2 separate regions of the Homo sapiens genome follow, and region 1 is linked to region 2. The links come from fine-mapping of genetic effects on gene expression. A gene starts in region 2. The other region holds a variant in brackets. All regions are shown on one strand. Distances are between the middles of the regions.

What was found.
Region 1: its variant is fine-mapped to the expression of TMEM33 in blood mononuclear cells (TOPMed, PIP above 0.99).

Annotation. Positions count from the first base shown.
Region 1 is chr4:41,904,226-41,914,002 of GRCh38, forward strand. It overlaps LOC105374426 (a long non-coding RNA gene), which reads right to left. Exons shown (of 3, transcript NR_188374.1): 3 at 6,222-7,273. Among named protein-coding and RNA genes, the nearest start is that of TMEM33, 26 kb to the right of the region's middle. RefSeq lists enhancers at 4,327-5,218, 8,660-9,777. The variant T/C (reference allele first, on the strand shown) is at 5,552.
Region 2 is chr4:41,930,897-41,940,673 of GRCh38, forward strand. It overlaps TMEM33 (transmembrane protein 33), which reads left to right and starts at 4,533. Exons shown (of 7, transcript NM_018126.3): 1 at 4,533-4,633; 2 at 7,706-7,800; 3 at 8,300-8,487. The coding sequence starts at 4,589. LOC105374426 (a long non-coding RNA gene) reads right to left here and starts at 3,779. Exons shown (of 3, transcript NR_188374.1): 1 at 3,710-3,779. RefSeq lists enhancers at 4,373-4,552, 4,793-4,842, 4,853-4,922.

The DNA of each region.
Region 1 (9,777 bases), 27 kb before region 2:
GGAGTCTAAGTCTCTTTGTAGGTCTCTAAGAACTTGCTCTATGAATCTGGGTGCTCCTGTATTGGGTGCATATATATTTAGGATAGTTAGCTCTTCTTGTTGCATTGATCACTTTACCATTATGTAATGCCCTTCTTTGTCTTTTTTTATCTTTGTTGGTTTAAAGTCTGTTTTATCAGAGACTAGGATTGCAACCCCTGCTTTATTTTGTTTGTTTGCTTTTGCTTTCCATTTGCTTGGTAAATATTCCTCCATTCTTTTATTTTGAGCTTACATGTGTCTTTGCACATGAGATGGGTCTCCTGAATACAGCACACCAATAGGTCTTGACTCTTTATCCAATCTGCCAGTCTGTGTCTTTTAATTGGGGCATTTAGCCCATTTGCATTTAAGGTTAACATTGTTATGTGTTAGTTTGATCCTGTCGTTATGATGCTAGCTGGTTATTTTGCCCATTAGTTGATGCAGTTTCTTCATAGTGTTAATGGTCTTTACAATTTGGTATGTTTTTGCAGTGGCTGGTACTGATTGTCCTTTCTATATTTAGTGCTTCCTTCAGGAGCTCTTGTAAGGCAGGACTGGTGGTGACAAAATCTCTCAGCATTTGCTTATCTGTAAAGGATTTTATTTCTCCTTCACTTATGAAGCTTAGTTTGGCTGGATATGAAATTCTGGGTTAAAAATTCTTTTCTTTAAGAATGTTGAATATTGGCCCCCACTCTCTTCTGGCTTGTAGGTTTCTTCAGAGAGATCCACTGTTAGTCTGATGGGCTTCCCTTTGTGGATAACCCGACCTGTCTCTCTGGATGCCCTTAACATTTTTTCCTTCACTTCAACCTTGGTGAATCTGATGATTATGTGTCTTGAGGTTGCTCTTCTCCTGGAGTATCCTTGTGGTGTTCTCTGTATTTCCTGAATTTGAATATTGGCCTGTGTTGCTAGGTTGGGGAAGTTCTCCTGGATAATCTCCTGAAGAGTGTTTTACAACTAGGTTCCATTCTCCCCATCATTTTCAGGGAAATCAAACGTAGGTTTGGTCTTTTCACGTAGTCTCATATTTCTTGGAAACTTTGTTCATTCTTTTTCATTCTTCTTCCTTTAATCTTGTCTTCACGCTTTATCTCATTAAGTTGATCTTCAATCTCTAATATCCTTTCTTCCACTTGATTGATTTGGCTATTGATACTTGTGTATGCTTCAGAAAGTTCTTGTGCTGTGTTTTTTGGCTCCATCAGGTCATTTATGTTCTTCTCTAAACTGGTTATTCTAGTTAGCAATTTCTCTAACCTTTTTTCAAGGTTCTTAGCTTCCTTGCATTGGGTTAGAACATGCTCCTTTAGGGATATCACCACCGATCCCACAGAAATACAAACTACCATCAGAGAATACTACAAACACCTCTACGCAAATAAACTAGAAAATCTAGAAGAAATGGATAAATTCCTCGACACATACACCCTCCCAAGACTAAACCAGGAAGAAGTTGAATCTCTGAATACTCCAATAACAGGCTCTGAAATTGAGGCAATAATCAATAGCTTACCAACCAAAAAGAGTCCAGGACCAGATGGATTCACAGCCGAATTCTACCAGAGGTACATGGAGGAACTGGTACCATTCCTTCTGAAACTATTCCAATCAATAGAAAAAGAGGGAATCCTCCCTAACTCATTTTATGAGGCCAGCATCATCCTGATACCAAAGCCTGGCAGAGACACAACCAAAAAAGAGAATTTTAGACCAATATCCTTGATGAACATTGATGCAAAAATCCTCAATATAATACTGGCAAAACGAATCCAGCAGCACATCAAAAAGCTTATCCACCATGATCAAGTGGGCTTCATCCCTGGGATGCAAGGCTGGTTCAATATATGCAAATCAATAAATGTAATCCAGTATATAAACAGAACCAAAGACAAAAACCACATGATTATCTCAATAGATGCAGAAAAGGCCTTTGACAAAATTCAACAACGCTTCATGCTAAAAACTCTCAGTAAATTAGGTATTGATGGGACGTATCTCAAAATAATAAGAGCTATCTATGACAAGCCCACAGCCAATATCATACTGAATGGGAAAAAACTGGAAGCATTCCCTTTGAAAACTGGCACAAGACAGGGATGCCCTCTCTCACCACTCCTATTCAACATAGTGTTGGAAGTTCTGGCCAGGGCAATTAGGCAGGAGAAGGAAATAAAGGGTATTCAATTAGGAAAAGAGGAAGTCAAATTGTCCCTGTTTGCAGATGACATGATTGTATATCTAGAAAACCCCATTGTATCAGCCCAAAATCTCCTTAAGCTGATAAGCAACTTCAGCAAAGTCTCAGGATACAAAATCAATGTACAAAAATCACAAGCATTCCTATACACCAATAACAGACAAACAGAGAGCCAAATCATGAGTGAATTCCCATTCACAATTGCTTCAAAGAGAATACAATACCTAGGAATCCAACTTACAAGGGACGTGAAGGACCTCTTCAAGGAGAACTATAAACCACTGCTCAATGAAATAAAAGAGGATACAAACAAATGGAAGAACATTCCATGCTCATGGGTAGGAAGAATCAATATCGTGAAAATGGCCATACTGCCCAAGGTAATTTATAGATTCAATGCCATCCCCATCAAGCTACCAATGACTTTCTTCACAGAATTGGAAAAAACTACTTTAAATTTCATATGGAACCAAAAAAGAGCCCGCATCACCAAGTCAATCCTAAGCCAAAAGAACAAAACTGGAGGCATCAGGCTACCTGACTTCAAACTATACTACAAGGCTACAGTAACCAAAATAGCATGGTACTGGTACCAAAACAGAGATATAGATCAATGGAACAGAACAGAGCCCTCAGAAATAACGCCGCATATCTACAACTATCTGATCTTTGACAAACCTGACAAAAACAAGCAATGGGGAAAGGATTCCCTATTTAATAAATGGTGCTGGGAAAACTGGCTAGCCATATGTAGAAAGCTGAAACTGGATCCCTTCCTTACACCTTATACAAAAATCAATTCAAGATGGATTAAAGACTTAAACGTTAGACCTAAAACCATAAAAACCCTAGAAGAAAAACTAGGCATTACCATTCAGGACATAGGCATGGGCAAGGACTTCATGTCTAAAACACCAAAAGCAATGGCAACAAAAGCCAAAATCGACAAATGGGATCTAATTAAACTGAAGAGCTTCTGCACAGCAAAAGAAACTACCATCAGAGTGAACAGGCAACCTACAACATGGGAGAAAATTTTTGCAACCTACTCATCTGACAAAGGGCTAATATCCAGAATCTACAATTAACACAAACAAATTTACAAGAAAAAAACAAACAACCCCATCAAAAAGTGGGCGAAGGACATGAACAGACACTTCTCAAAAGAAGACATTTATGCAGCCAAAAAACACATGAAAAAATGCTCACCGTCACTGGCCATCAGAGAAATGCAAATCAAAACCGCAATGAGATACCATCTCACACCAGTTAGAATGGTAATCATTAAAAAGTCAGGAAACAACAGGTGCTAGAGAGGATGTGGAGAAATAGGAACACTTTTACACTGTTGGTGGGACTGTAAACTAGTTCAACCATTGTGGAAGTCAGTGTGGCGATTCCTCAGGGATCTAGAACTAGAAATACCATTTGACCCAGCCGTCCCATTACTGGGTATATACCCAAAGGACTATAAATCATGCTGCTATAAAGACACATGCACACATATGTTTATTGCAGCATTATTCACAATAGCAAAGACTTGGAACCAACCCAAATGTCCAACAATGATAGACTGGATTAAGAAAATGTGGCACATATACACCATGGAATACTATGCAGCCATGAAAAATGATGAGTTCATGTCCTTTGTAGGGACATGGATGAAATTGGAAATCATCATTCTCAGTAAACTAGCACAAGGACAAAAAACCCAAACACCACATGTTCTCACTCACAGGTGGGAATTGAACAATGAGAACACATGGACACAGGAAGGGGAACATCACACTCTGGGGACTGTTTTGGGGTGGGGGGAGGGGGGAGGGATAGCATTAGGAGATATACCTAATGCTAAATGACGAGTTAATGGGTGCAGCACACCAGCATGGCACATGTATACATATGTAACTAACCGGCACATTGTGAACATGTACCCTAAAACTTAAAGTATAATAATAATAAAATAAAATAAAAAATAAAAAAATAAAAAAAAAGAACATGCTCCTTTAGCTTGCAGGAGTTTTTTTTACCCATCTGCTGAAACTTTCTTCTGTCAATTCGTCAAACTCATTCTCTGTCCAGTTTTGTTCCCTTGCTGGCAAGAAGTTGTGATCCTTTGGAGGGAAGAGGTGTTCTGGTTTTTGGAATTTTCAGCCTTTTTGCACTGGTTTTTCCTCATCTTCGTGGATTTATCTACCTTTGGTCTTTGATGTTAGTGACCTGTGGATGGGGTTTTTATGTGGACATCCTTTTTGTTGATGTTGATGCTATTCCTTTCTGTTTTTTAGTTTTCTTTCTAACAGTCAGGCCTCTCTGCTGCAGGTCTGCTGGAGTTTGCTGGAGGTCCACTCCAGACCCTGTTTGCCTGGGTATCAACAGTGGATGCTGCAGAACAGCAAAGATTGCTGCCTGTTCCTTGTCTGGAAACTTCATCCCAGAGGGTCACCCGCCAGATGCCAGCCAGAGCTCTCCTGTATGAGGTGTCTGTTGACCCCTGCTGGGAGGTGTCTCCCCATAAGGAGACACGGGGGTCAGGGACCCACTTGAGGAGGCAGTCTGTCCCTTATCAGAGCTCGAGCACTGTGCTTGGTAGATCCACTGCTCTCTTCAGAGCTGGCAAGCAGGAACATTTAAGTCTGCTGAAGCTGTGCCCGCAGTAGCCCCTTCCCCCAGGTGCTCTGTCCCAGGGAGATGGTAGTTTTATCTAGAAGCCCCTGACTGGGGCTGCTGCCTTTCTTTCAGAGATGCCCTGCCCAGAGAGGAGGAATCTGGAGAGGCAATCTAGCTACAGAGGCTTTGTCGAGCTGCAGTGGGCTCCACCCAGTTCAAACTTCCCAGCAGCTTTGTTTACACTATGAGGGGAAAACCACCTACTCATGCCTCAGTAATGGTGGATGCCCCTCCCCCAACCAAGGTCAAGCATCCCAGGTCAACTTCAGACTCCTGTGCTGGCAGTGAGAATTTCAAGCCAGTGGATCTCAGCTTTCTGGGCTCCATGGTGGTGAGATTTGCTGAGCTAGACCACTTGGCTCCCTGGCTTCAGCCCCCTTTCCTGGGGAGTGAAGGTTGTGTCTGGCTGGCATTCCAGGTGCCACTGAGGTACGAAAAAAAAAAAAAAACTCCTGCAGCTAGCTCGGTGTCTGCCCAAATGGTCTCCAAGTTTTGTGCTTGAAACCCAGGGCCCTGGTGGCATAGGCACCCAAGGGAATCTCCTGGTCTGCAGGTTGCCAAGACCATGGGAAAAGTGTAGTATCTGGGCTGGAATGCACCATTCCTCACAGCACAGTCCCTCGTGGCTTCCCTTGGCTAGGGGAAGGAGTTCCC[T/C]GACCCCTTGCACTTCCCAGGTGAGGTGACACCCCACCCTGCTTCAGCTTGCCCTCCGTGGGCTGCACCCACTGTGTAACCAGTCCCAGTGAGGTGGGCTGTGTACCTCAGCTGGAAATGCAGGCCAGGTGTGGTGGTTCATGCCTGTAATCCCAACATTTTGAGAGGATGATGTGGGTGGATGGCCTGACGTCAGGAGTTCTAGACTAGCCGGCCAACATGGTGAAACCCCGTCTCTCCTAAAAATACAAAATTAGCCAGGCGTGATGGCACATGCCTGTAATCCCAGCTACTCGGTAGGCTGAGGCAGGGTAATTGCCTGAACCTAGGAGGCAGAGGTTGCAGTGAGCCGAGATCACACCACTGCACTCCAGCCTGGGCAACGAGAGTGAAACACCATCTCAAAAAAAAAAAAAAAAAAAAGGAAATGCAGAAATCACTTACCTTCTGCTGGGAGGTGTAGGCCAAAGCTCTTCCTATTTGGCTATCTTGCCAGCCACCCCTACAGTAGATTTTTTTTTGAGACAGGCTCTCATTCTTTTGCCCAGGCTGCAGTGCAGTAGAGCAATCATGGCTCACTGAAGCCTCCAGCTCCTGGGCTCAAGTGATCCTCCCACCTCAGCCTCCCGAGTAGCTACGACTACAGGCTCACACCACCATACCAGGCTAATTTTTTTTTTTTTTTTTTGGTAGAGACGTGCTTTCATCAGGTTGCCCAGGCTGGTCTTGAACTCCTTGGCTCAAGTGATCTGCAAAGTGCTGGGACTACAGGCTTGAACCACAGTGCCCAGCTTATTCCTGAACTTTTTAGATTATAATATAGTTAACAGAGTGCTAAATTACTGGAGATTGAAGAATAAGAGTGGAAAAAGAGCATTTGGTAATTTCTTTTTTTTTTTTTTTTTTTTTTGAGACAGAGTCTTGCTCTGTCACCCAGGCTGGAGTGCAGTGGTGCGATCTCGGCTCACTGCAAGCTCCGCCTCCCGGGTTCACGGCATTCTCCTGCCTCAGCCTCCCGAGTAGCTGGGACTATGGGCACCCGCCACCACACCCAGCTAATTTTTGTATTTTCAGTAGAGACGGGGTTTCGCCATGGTCTCGATCTCCTGACCTCATGATCCACACGCCTCGGCCTCCCAAACTGCTGGGATTACAGGCATGAGCCACAGCGCCCGGCCTAGCATTTGGTAATATCTTGATGTTGCTAGTTTTGTTTTAGGAATGTGTTTCCCTCATGAATTCCAGGAGCACAGGTGGTTGGAAGGGCTCTCTTGACAGTGATTTTATAGCTCACCATCAGATCACAGCATAAGACTGAAGGCTTGACTCATCTTTCTTCTCTTGTCCTTAGTTTGTCCATTTGTAAAAGGAGAGAGATTTTGCTGGAGGATATTTGAGGACTCTTTTATCTCTAACATCCCATGAATTGCAAACATTATTAACTACTGTTACCTTTCATGACAGCAGGTAGTTGAATCCAAATTGCATTCTCTTTTCTAGTTAATGTGTTTCAGCCTTCTGCGATTTTGTATTAGACAAGAAATATATGGGACCCTCTTTTTCCTGACATGAGGGAATACAGCTGGTAATTTGCATCTCTCTTGGGGACCTAGATATACTTTCACATCATCTGCTTTCTTCTGAAGACTTGAGGTGTCTGAACAGGATAGTACTAAAGTCACTGTTAAGTCAAGACCAGGCCGAGAAAAACTTCCTTTGTATCTGCAAAATAAAACACACAATGTTTTAATACTAAAGATTTTTAAGCCCACTCTATTGACTAGGAATGGCTTTCTTATTACTACATAGTATATTTTATTTTCTTTCTTTTTTTTTTTTTTTGAGACGAATTCTCATCCTTTCACCCAGGCTGTTGTACGTGGTGTGATCGCAGCTCACTGCAACCTCTGCCTCCCAGGTTCAAGCGATTCTCCTGCCCCAGCCTCCCAAGTAGCTGGGATTACAGGCGTGTGCCACCATGCCTGACTAATTTTTGTATTTTTTGGTAGAAATGGGGTTTCACCATGTTGAACAGGCTGGTCTCGAACTTCTGACCTCAAGTGACCCACCTGCCTCGGCCTCCCAAAGTGCTGGGATTACAGGTGTGAGCCACTGCGCCTGGCTCATAGTATGTATTTTGAAGTATAGAATTGCTGAGAGACCTTTAAACTCATCTCAGCATTTTGCGCGGATGTCTCCAGGACTCTTGCCATTCTGAGCTGAGCACTCCTTGCCCAATTTTTACTCCCCTATCTTCTCCAGCATCTACTCTCCCTCTGACACAGCCCCATACACTACAGGCTTCTACATGGCCATCTTTAATTCAATTCAGCAAATATTCATGGATGCATATGACCTGCCCAGCTCTGCGGTGGGTGTTAGGGATATAATCTTCAATATAATTAGGGACCTACCACATGAATTAACCACAAAGCACTCCTCTGGGTTATGTAAACAAATTGACCTACTGCGTAGGTTCGCTTAACATTGAACACTTAAAAATTAGAAAACCAGTGCCTCAGATTATTTTCTTTTTTTTTTTTTCCACAGTTAATGAAAATTTCCTCACCTTGCTGACATTGGAAACTTTGTCGTGTAATGCTTTGTCTGATTCATGACAATAGAACAATTTTGTCATTATCTACAAGGAAGGACACTTCTATTTAGAATGTTAAGAGAAAACATAGATATTTCTTTCCTTTCATCCAAAAGTGAAAACCAAACTATAAACATATACATTAAAGGAATTGGTGCAGATATGGTTTGAATATATGTCCCCACCAAGTCCCAAGTTGAATTGTAATCCCCAGTGCTGGAAGTTGGGCCTGGTTGGAGGTAGGGCCTGGTGGGTCAGGAGGGTCAATCCCTCATGGTGCTATCCTCCTGATAGTGAGTGAGTTCTCACGAGATCTGATTGTTTATGTGTGTGGCACCACCCCCATCTTGTTCCTGCTCTCACCATGTGAAGTGCCGGCTCCGACTTCACCTTCTGCCATGAGTAAGAGCTTCCTGAGGCCTCCCCAGAAGCAGATGCCAGCACTGTTTCCTGTACAGCCTGCAGAACTGTGAGCCAATTAAACCTCTTTTCTTATAAGTTACCCAGTCTCAGGTATTTCTTTCTAGCAATGCAAGAACGGCCTAATACTGGTGCTAACATACGACATTCATAAACACAAATAAAATAATGTGGTCTGTCAAGAGGCCATTCTGCCCACCCTAGTTCTGTAGATGGGTAATTAGGAGATAGATTTGGCAGAAACATTATTCATCAGAAATCCATGTCAAGTTCATATGCTCTTGGCCTAGCTGGCTCCTGCTCACCAAATCAAAATCTGAATAAAAGTTGGAAAAAAGTTTTAATTTGCCTGGATATATTTCTTCATGAGATAAAAGAAGATATAGCTAAATATTCAATAGCAGAATAATTATATCTGAAATCACCTTGCTTTTCCTGAAATGTATTAAAGCTGCATTTTACAAGAAAGGATTTTGACTTCTAGTTTTGAGGGTCTATCTGAAACGGCCTTTGCAAAGTTATGACTGAGACAGCGAAAGACATCTAACCTAACTGACTCCATCTTTTTTCTAAACTTTAAGCTGTACTTGTTCCTTCCTGGGCATCTGCTGAACTAACTTTGGGAGGAACTTAGTTTATAGTTTAAAACAAAAATGATAACACTCCTCTCCCAAAACAAACCTTCTTGCCTGGGGACAAGAATGCCTTTGTAGGACTAACAAATTAGGCACAAGATTAGAAATTATGGTTTAAGAGTAATGCAGCTGGAGGCTACAAGATTCTGGCCCTCCCTAAACTGCTCCTAACATCAGTGCTTCAGATATTTTGCAGACCCTGCACTTGATGAATCAGCTGGCACACCCAGATCAATAAACTGGCTCATCTGATCTTGTGGTCCCCACCCAGGAACTGACTCAGCACAAGAGGACATCTTCAACTTCCCATGATTTCATCTCCAACTCAACCAATCAGTGCTCTCAACTCACTGGCTTTTCCCCACCCACCAAATTATCCTTAAAAACTCTGATCTCCAAATGCTCAGGGGGACTGATTTGAGTGATGATAAAACTCTGGTCTCCTCCACAGCTGGCTCTGCATGAATAACTCTTTCTCTATTGCAATTCCCCCACCTTGATAAATCCACTCTGTCTAGGCAGCGGGCAAGGTGAACCCACACATGCAATGAACCAGTCTATTTCTACAAGGTTAG
Region 2 (9,777 bases):
AAAAAACTAGTATCAAAACACAATTTTAACAAAACTTTTTAAAATGCCGACAAATCAATAATAATGGACCACAACAAAAGACAAACAGCTCAATAGAAAAGAGGCAACAGAGGCCAGGCACAGCGGCTCACGCCTATAATCCCAGCACTTTGGGAGGCTGAGGCGGGTAGATCACGAGGTCTGGAGTTTGAGACCAGCCTGGCCAACATACTGAAACCCCATCTCTACTAAAAATACAAAAAATTAGCCCAGCGTGGTAGCAGGCACCTGTAATCCCAGCTACTTAGGAGGCTGAGGCAGGATAATCATTTGAACCTGGGAGGTGGAGGCTGCAGCAAGTCGAGACTGCGCCATTGCACTCCTGCCTGGGCGACAGCTCAAGACTGTGTCTCAAAAAAAAAAGCCAACAGGAGAGAAAATCTGAATGGCCAATAAAGTTGTGAAAAGATGCTAAGCCTCACTACTACTCACGAAAATGCAAATTGAAAAAATGACATACCATTTTATATACCTAATCTTGGTAAGAACTAAAAATAGCAAATTTTGGCAGGGATTAGGGCTATTCTCATACACTAAATACAACTACTTAGGAGAGTAAACTTGCAATTATTTTAATATGCAAAGTTGAAGATATGTGTCTTAGTTGTTTCACTTTCATTTTACTCTTTAACAAAAATATCAAGAAACATTCATGAAATTACACTCATTCATCAATGGCAACTGTATATTGCTATGGATATAAGAGTTCAGCAAAATCAAAAGAAGTATCTGTGAGATTAATTAGCTATATGGAATTTACAATAGAGAACATTTTGTATTTTAATATTTTTGTAATAAGATGATCCTTTAAATCAGTAAAAAAATATGTACTTACATACATATATATAAAATATATATAGCTATGGACTGAATTGTGTCCCTCAAAATTCATATGTCAAGACCCTAACCCTCATGTGACTGTATATATTTGGAAACAGGATCTTTAGGAAGTAATTAAGGCTAACTTAAGTTATAAGGATGGGGTCCTAATCCGATAGAACTGGCGACCTTATAAGAAGGGGAAGAGAGGAAGACAGAGATCATTTACCTCCTCCTAAATTGAGCACACAGAAAATGGCAGCTGCCAGCGGCTAAAATGAAACTTACCTTGTTGGCACCTTAATCTTAAACCTCTCAGTCTCCAGAACTGTGAGAAAACAAATTTGTGTTGCTTATGCTACCCACTTTATGGTATTTCGTTATGACAGCCTGAGTTGACTGCCATAGACACACACAAACACACACACTGGCAAGGAGACATATAATTCTAAGAAATGTTAAAAAATGTAACTGCTATAAAAATATGGAGTAAATGATATGGGAAGAGTGCAGAGGAGGTGGCATTTTAGCTCAGCTAGGAGGATGAGTAATCCAGGCTAGAGATCTGAAGGACCTGAACTTGGGCAGTGGCCTTAGAAAAAGAGGTTTGTACTGTTTCAAGAGAACCCCATTTGATTTCTCGGCTGCATCTGACTAGCACCTGGTCTGCCCATGGATACTAGAGGATAACCACACATCTGACAGAGGAAGAGCATTACAGTCTCATGGTTTTCCGACAGGGTGCCAGCTTTCCCGTGGGTCCCCAGTCCACTCCCTCTCCCTAGCCCCTTCATATTTGATTCTCAATCTACTGCTCTTCTCATGCATTTTTTTCTACACTTCTTCAGGTCTCAGCAGATGGCATTCCCCTTCCTACACACCCATACCTAGTTAGTCACCACATCTTAGAAGCCACCTCCAAGTCATCTTTCCTCTTCTTTTCCCCAACAACACTGCCTCAATCCAGAATCTCATCACTTCTTTCCTACACGTATGTGTTAACTTAAAACTCACAAGATCTATATGTTCAGAAAAGGAGACTTTATTTCTTATAAGGAGATACAGCCTGCAAGGTGGCCCTCTCATGGGCTGGGAAGCACAGCCTCCAGCAAGGACCAGAGACAGGCACTTTAAAGGAAGAGGAGCTGGGGTAGGAGCTTTATGCTGAATAGGTTGGCTAAACATACATATTCAACAGGTTACAGGAAGAGCTATGAATATTCATAAAAGTAGTCCTGATACATGCGTATGGAACAACATGCATGTTACATACAACCTGTGTTCACCTTGGGGTGGAGACTTAATATTTAATGTATTACAGTTAGGCTCTGTACCTCAAAAGGTGAAGCAGAGACGAAGGCACACAAGTGCATGGCCTCTGTAAAGTGGCCAGAACCAGCCTATGGTCAGTGGTCTTATCTGGAGAACGTTACTGAAATCAGTCTCTTGTGCAATCAAAGCTGTAGCTATGGTTGGTATAGCAGGGGTTCAGTTAGTGTCTGTGAGCTGGATTAGTTGTAATTGTTTTAATATTGCTTCTCTCTAGGCCAGTGGTTGTTTAGCTGCCAGAGGGAAAAAAAAAACCTCTTGTGGTAGAACATAGTTTATTTTTTAAGTGTAGGGGGTGCATGACTTAACCCTTGCCTGGCATGGCCTTAGGTCCTGTTTATAATTTGGTATCCTATTCCCACAAAGAGTTTGTTCTGTCAATGTTATGATCTTTATTGTAACATTAACATGTTAAACATAGGCTGACTTCCTAGAACTAATTTGAAAGGAAAACCCTAACTTTCCACGCCTAAGTAGTTGCTAGTCAGTTGTGTCTAAACTACAAAAGGGAGGGGGTATAATGAGGCATGTCTGATCTCCTGTCCCATCATGGCTGGGGTCCCCTTGGCCAAGAAAGGGATCTATCCAGTCAGTCGACAGACCCCTTACTTAGGATTTTATTTTTAGTTTATATATATATAAATGGCTTCACAACGAATTTCCTGACTTTTAATTTGCCCCTCTGTTCATCCTCCACCCTGTTGCCAGAGAGAACTTTCTAAATCTCAGGATGTCACACTTCTGATTAAAATTGTTCCATGGTTCTCTGGATTTCAGGGTCAAGTTCAGATCCTTTCCTCAGTACACCCCTGCCTGCCTCTCTAGCGCAAATCTTTCACAATCCCCTGACTGGTACCATCATTCTGGTCACACTCAACTAGTCCTCTCGCTGTCCTGTTACTTCTTGCACTTTCTGTTACTCTGTATGGAGTTCCCTTCCCGTTTTAAGGCAGAAGAATATGGTATGGCGGTAGGGAACCTAATGCCCTTTCTCGCTGACTTCCTAGAACTAAATTGAAGGAAAATCCTTACTGTCCACGCTTAAGTGAATAAAGGGCCAGATACTACTCCCTTTGCAAGCCCCAACCTGTTCTGCGCAGATTTGGGAAATTGAAAGTACCTCTGATTGGTTGCTTTTTGTAACCAATCAGACGTTTGCATAGAAGTGTAACTTTGTAACTTCTTCAGCCTCTGATTGGTTGCTTTGCGCAACCATTCAGACTGATTGCGGGCCACCACTTCATTTACATGAAGTGAACTCCAAGTGGCCAATGGGAAACCTCTAGGGGGTATTTGGACCCGAGAAGACTCTGTATCCAGGGCCCTTGAGCTGCTGTCTCACTCTCCCACACTCTGGAGTGTACTTTCATTTTCAACAAATCTCTGCTTTTGTTGCTTTATTCTTTCCTTGCTTTGTGCGTTTTGTCCAATTCTATGTTCAAAACGCCAAGAACTTGGACACCCTACACCAGTAACACTTTCAGCCAACTTTTTGTCGTTCAAGATCAAGGCCCGGACTTACCTTTTCCAGGAAACCTCCCCAGATCCCTTCTGATTTAGGTACCGTCCTCTGTGCTCCCTGTGATTAAATCAGCCTCTACACATATTACACAATCACTATGCTCTGATTTCCGTTTACTTGTTTCTCTTTTGCAATCTGTGTCATATTCCTCTTTTTATCCGCCGTGCCAAGTATGGAGCCTGTCACATAGCAGGCCTCATAAATACTTATTGAAAGAATTAATAATAGACGTAGAACCAACGGGCTTAGTAAGCCCCTGGAGAAAGGAATCAAAGATGTTTCTGAGGCCTCTATATCAGGAAGTGCGGAAATTTCATGGTTTGAGAATGGGCAGGAAAGATCATTTGTGAGCTGTATTTAATGCAAAAGTTGCTCCCCCATCCTGATTTCTTAGCTCACTGGGCCAATCGGCGGAAGGACAGGTGGGGCTCAAATTAGGAGAAAAAAACCACACTTCCCGTCATGCCTCTGGGCACCGCTCCCGTTTCCCCCTCTTTGTCACCGCCTCTTCCCCACGGAAATGAAAGGAGCACTTCCGGGTTCGGCAATAACCTGGAGCCGGCGGCGTAGGTTGGCTCTTTAGGGCTTCACCCCGAAGCTCCACCTTCGCTCCCGTCTTTCTGGAAACACCGCTTTGATCTCGGCGGTGCGGGACAGGTACCTCCCGGCTGCTGCGGGTGCCCTGGATCCAGTCGGCTGCACCAGGCGAGCGAGACCCTTCCCTGGTGGAGGCTCAGAGTTCCGGCAGGGTGCATCCGGCCTGTGTGTGGCGCGAGGCAGGGAAGCCGGTACCCGGGTCCTGGCCCCAGCGCTGACGTTTTCTCTCCCCTTTCTTCTCTCTTCGCGGTTGCGGCGTCGCAGACGCTAGTGTGAGCCCCCATGGCAGATACGACCCCGAACGGCCCCCAAGGGGCGGGCGCTGTGGTAAGTGCGAGGGCAGGGTAGTCTGGCTTGATTTGCAAGAGTTAGGAAGAAGCAGGAAGCGTTGCGAGTCCCGAGGCGTTCCAGAAGCTCAGTGCATTCAGGAATGGGATTAATGAGTTGGGGTGGGGAAGTTGGAGCGGGGAGAGGGGAGGTCCTGAGCGAAGATATGGAGGGAACTACAAGTTTGTTTCTGAAGCGACAATAGGCTGACCTGGAGCTGGTGGCCCCCACCTGTATGCCATGGAAATTGGGCCTTCTTTCCTCTTCTCCCACCTCGGTCTTTTGTTTACCGTAGGCCCCAAGGTTAAAGATGCCGCATGAGATTGTGCCATGACACACATGATCCATGACACACACCACGTGGAGCACACGAGTGCCGGCAAAGAACGTTTCTGCCTAGTTTATACAATCGTATATAGAAATTATGCAAAGGGAGGAGAGCGGTGGTCTTTTTCTTCTTCACTTTGTTCTTTATGAAGAGAAATATCATTATGCTTTTGTAATTTTTTTAAGATGCTGATCTGGAGCTAACAAGTTATTTGTGCCCGGAGCATTGCTGTCCTCTACTTTTTAATCCATAAGTAGTTAAGTATTATTCTGTGTGACCACAATGCAGTTACCACATTTGGGAAATATTACCTAATATAAAATCCATGTGCAAATTTCCATAATTGTCCTTTAAAGCTGCTTTCTCTTCATCTGGGATTCTGTCAAAAAGCATGCATCGATGGGCTGGCGCAGTGGCTCACTCCTGTAAGCCCAGAACTTTGGGAGTCCAAGGCGGGAGGATCGCTTGAGTTCAGGAGTTAGAGACCAGCCTTGGAAACATAGCGAGACCTCATCTCTACTAGAAATCAAAGAAATTAGGCGGGGCGTGGTGGCTCACGCCTGTAATCTCAGCACTTTGGGAGGCCAAGGCGGGTGGATCGCTTGCGCCCGAGAAGTTGAAGCTGCCGTGAGCCAAGATCGCGCCACTGCACTCCAGCCTGGGTGATAGAGCAAAACCTTCTCTCAAAACAAACAAACAAACAAACAAACATAAATTAGCCGGTCGTGGAGGTGCGCTCCTATAGTCCCAGCATAGTCCCAGCTACTCAGGAGGCTGAGGTGGGTTGTGCTTTTGCGCTCCAGCCTGGGGTGACAGAGCGAGACCCTATCTCAGAAAGCATGCATTCAATTTACTGGCCATATCTTGTTTACTGCCTTTTAATCTAGAACAGTTCTGCCCTCTCCTCCCCTTTTTTGTCTTTTAAGATACTGATAGTTTTCAAGAGTCCAGACATGTTTTGCAGCATATATAGGTACATCTAATATGTATATCTATATTATATATCAGGAAGCATTTTACATTGATTTATCCCATCATTGCAGAATTTGTTTGATTATTTGATTAAGGTGGTGTCCACCAGTTTCTCCATTGTAAAGATACCTTTTTTCCTTTCTAATTAAAAAGTGTTCTTTGGCATGATACTGTGACACTGTGTGAATATTGCTCCTCAACAATTTTTCACCCAAAGATCTAGTGATTTTTTTTTTTTTTTGCCTGATGGTTGGACAGTTTACTCTTAAAAAATGTATACCAATAGACTTTCTTAAACTTTTAAAATTGTATAATATACATAAGTGTGTACAAAATGAAACGCATAGCTCAATGATTTATTGCAGAATAAACAACCTGAACAAATAGATTTTAAGGAGAATGTTCTAAAACTAACTTTCAAGCTGTGGTGCCCAGTCATAATATTTGTTGAGAAACTGAGCACAGTAAGCTGGATTCATCCTTCACTTGATTACTGCTAATCATTTCAGTTTATTGGAGTCACAGTACGGTAAGTCTGGATTTAATGATAAATCAAAGTTGTATTTCATATTTCTGAAATTACCTACATGTGGGTTAAAAAGACATAAAATAAAACAGCCTGGAATTTTACAATGTACTTGGATTTTTCCCTCAAATTTTTTATATTTTTTTTTCAAAAGATAATGAAATTAAATTACATAGAGCAGTGTTTTTAGACTTCAGGTAGACCCATTAGTGAGTTGAGAAGTCAGTTTAGTGTAAACACCAGCTATTTTTAAAAAATTAAATAGAAAATGTCAAAATCCATTATATACAGTAGGGTAAATATTTGTGAAACTTTTGTTTATATATCCATGTATATGGATCTCAATGTTAAAATTACGAAGATCCTAGACAAAAAATGTAAAAGCCACTTTTGAATATAAGATACATTTTAATGAGAAAACACATTTTAAGATTCTGCTTTAGTGGTAATAGACATAAGTATTGGGGGGAAAGCAGCAAAGGAAAGATAGAATGGGAAAAAAATGGGGGAAGAAAATGGTATAGGAAAGTTTAATCTAGGACCACCGAAACTAGGGTAAGACTTGTGGGGGAACATGGAGGTGATAAAGAGAGTGGTGTAATCAGAGAGGCAGGTGGCCATTTAATACCTGTCAGCCACATTTTGAGCACCTAGAGTATGCCAGGCCCTTGTGCATGTAGGCAGATTACAAGGCGAATGAGTTTAGTTGTTACTACTATCATGGTTTTATATTTCTTCTTCAAAAGGTTTCTTTAATCCCAACTGGCTTTATGTGATGTTTTACTCAGCTCTGAGACCTACCTATTCGGATTTGAGATTTTTTGCTAAGAATAGGCATATGGATCTCTTGAGAGCAATTAGTTTTTGTTTAATGTTCTTTTAAAATAGATGAAGCCAATATTGCAAGTGTTAAAGGAACACAGACAATTGTAGTTGAATTTCTGTTAAGATTATTTTTTCTAATTAATTAGTCTTTGCATTTTTTTAAAATGTCAGCTGATATTTTTCTATTTATTTCTGTTTAAGTACTTCTTGTGCTTTCCACATGAAAACTATAAGGTGTTTGGACTTCTCATTAAGCATATACATGAAACATGTAATTGCCTTAGAGTTTTCACCTAATGATCTAAAAAAACAAATGGAGGAAGATTAAAATATTTTGAGTAGACATAAAAACCACACAGTCTTGATGCTTAAAAACATGATTTGCAGGCATAGCTTACAGTATTTTTCTTTTTAAATTTAGCAATTCATGATGACCAATAAACTGGACACGGCAATGTGGCTTTCTCGCTTGTTCACAGTTTACTGCTCTGCTCTGTTTGTTCTGCCTCTTCTTGGGTATGTATTATACATATTGCTGCCTTTGATATTCAATTGTTGAGTCAGTTTATATGGAGTGCCTTTTAGGTGTAAGACTTATTAACCTGTAAAGGGTTTAGGGACAAATAAAATACAAGTTCCAGCCTTCAGGTACTAACAACCTAATAACATTATCAGAGGAATATTTTATATCTTGTGCTTTGTGAAACTAACACATTGAAAATCCAAGGAAAAATTGATGTGTGGGAATGAGATAAGTTCATGTTTTTTTCATTTTTACTTATTACTTGACAGGAAGGTCCTGCTTTATAAAATTCAATTTTATAAATTGATTATAAGAAATTCAGTTGGGCATATATATGAAGTGAAGCTATTAAAACGGTAGAATAAGTTCATGTAATTTTTTTCTATTGACAAGTGATTTAGGTGTTGTGCAATTATGATGCAATTCACAAAGGAGGAAGAGACACTGCAGTTGTTTATGTCTCATGATAACCTCTCCTCTGGTAATTTGCAGGTTGCATGAAGCAGCAAGCTTTTACCAACGTGCTTTGCTGGCAAATGCTCTTACCAGTGCTCTGAGGCTGCATCAAAGATTACCACACTTCCAGTTAAGCAGAGCATTCCTGGCCCAGGCTTTGTTAGAGGACAGCTGCCACTACCTGTTGTATTCACTCATCTTTGTAAATTCCTATCCAGTTACAAGTATCCTTTTCTACCTTGTTAACAATGAAATTGCCAACTAAGCATATAGGAGATCTCTTCTGATTATTTCAGCAATGAAGGCATTCCATGAAGCCTGGGTTTGTTCTCGGCACTTCATTTGAATGAAGATATGTTTAGTGTAAGAATTTCTGACTTTAAAATGTGAAATCTAAACTTTGAAGAGCTGATTTAGGAATTTTAAACTATCTTTGTTCTTGCCTCTTGTAAGCTTCCCTATTAGAATGGATATTTTCAAATTCCCCTTCGAAGCACAACCTTACGCAGAACTTACTTTAATATTTACATTTTTTTCATTTAATTCACGTTTTTGGCAAAGTGTCCAGATGTCTTGCTTTAAAAAAGAGAGGTCCTCAGCTCTTTCCATCTTAACCCCAGTGAACTAGATACAAATGGAATTTAACCAAGAAACAACTTATTTAAGCAGGTAATGAGATAATCAATACAAAGAAATTAATATTTGCTGTGTATAGAGTAGAAAATAAGGACACACATGGATAATCCGTGAAGCTAATGAGAAATAATTCATTTGGAATTTGTATGTTTTCACATTTCAAAGGTGTGTTGTGGGATGATACTGGGTAGTCCATAAAGGAGGGGAAAAATGGGGAAGAGGTTCTATAGTGAACACTAGGTTAAACTTTCTTTTTTTTTTTTTTTTTTTTTTTTGAGACAGAGTCTTGCTCTGTTGCCCAGGCCACCTGCCTCTGCCTCCCAAAGTGCTGGGATTATAGGCGTGAGCCATCACGCCCAGCCAGGTCAAACATTTTTAAATAGGGTTCTTTACTATAGTGGCTTTGGTATTCTAACGTGTGTTGTGAAACTAAGAGAGTTAGTAGGGTTTTTTAAACTTAAATTTGTGGTTGTTTTTTTTCCTGTAGATTATCTCTGCAAATCATTTTGTGCATTGAGAAGTGCTGGTCTAAGAGCTTTTGAATATTTATGATACATCTGTATGTTATGTAAAGCACAATAAAATATTCCTCTGAGACTGAATATTACCTATTTAGATACCTATGCTCATGAAGTATCAAATTTTTAAATAGATTTTTATAAGTCTTAAGGAAAAGAAATAGGAGGAAACCGAAATTTCCTGAGCACCTATTTTGCCAGTATAAGAACTTGAATTTAGGCCAGGCGCGGTGGCTCACGTGCGGTGGCACTTTGGGAGGCTGAGGTGGGCGGATCATGAGGTCAGGAGATTGAGACCATCCTGGCTAATATGGCGAAACCCCATCTCTACTAAAAATACAAAAAATTAGCTGGGCATGG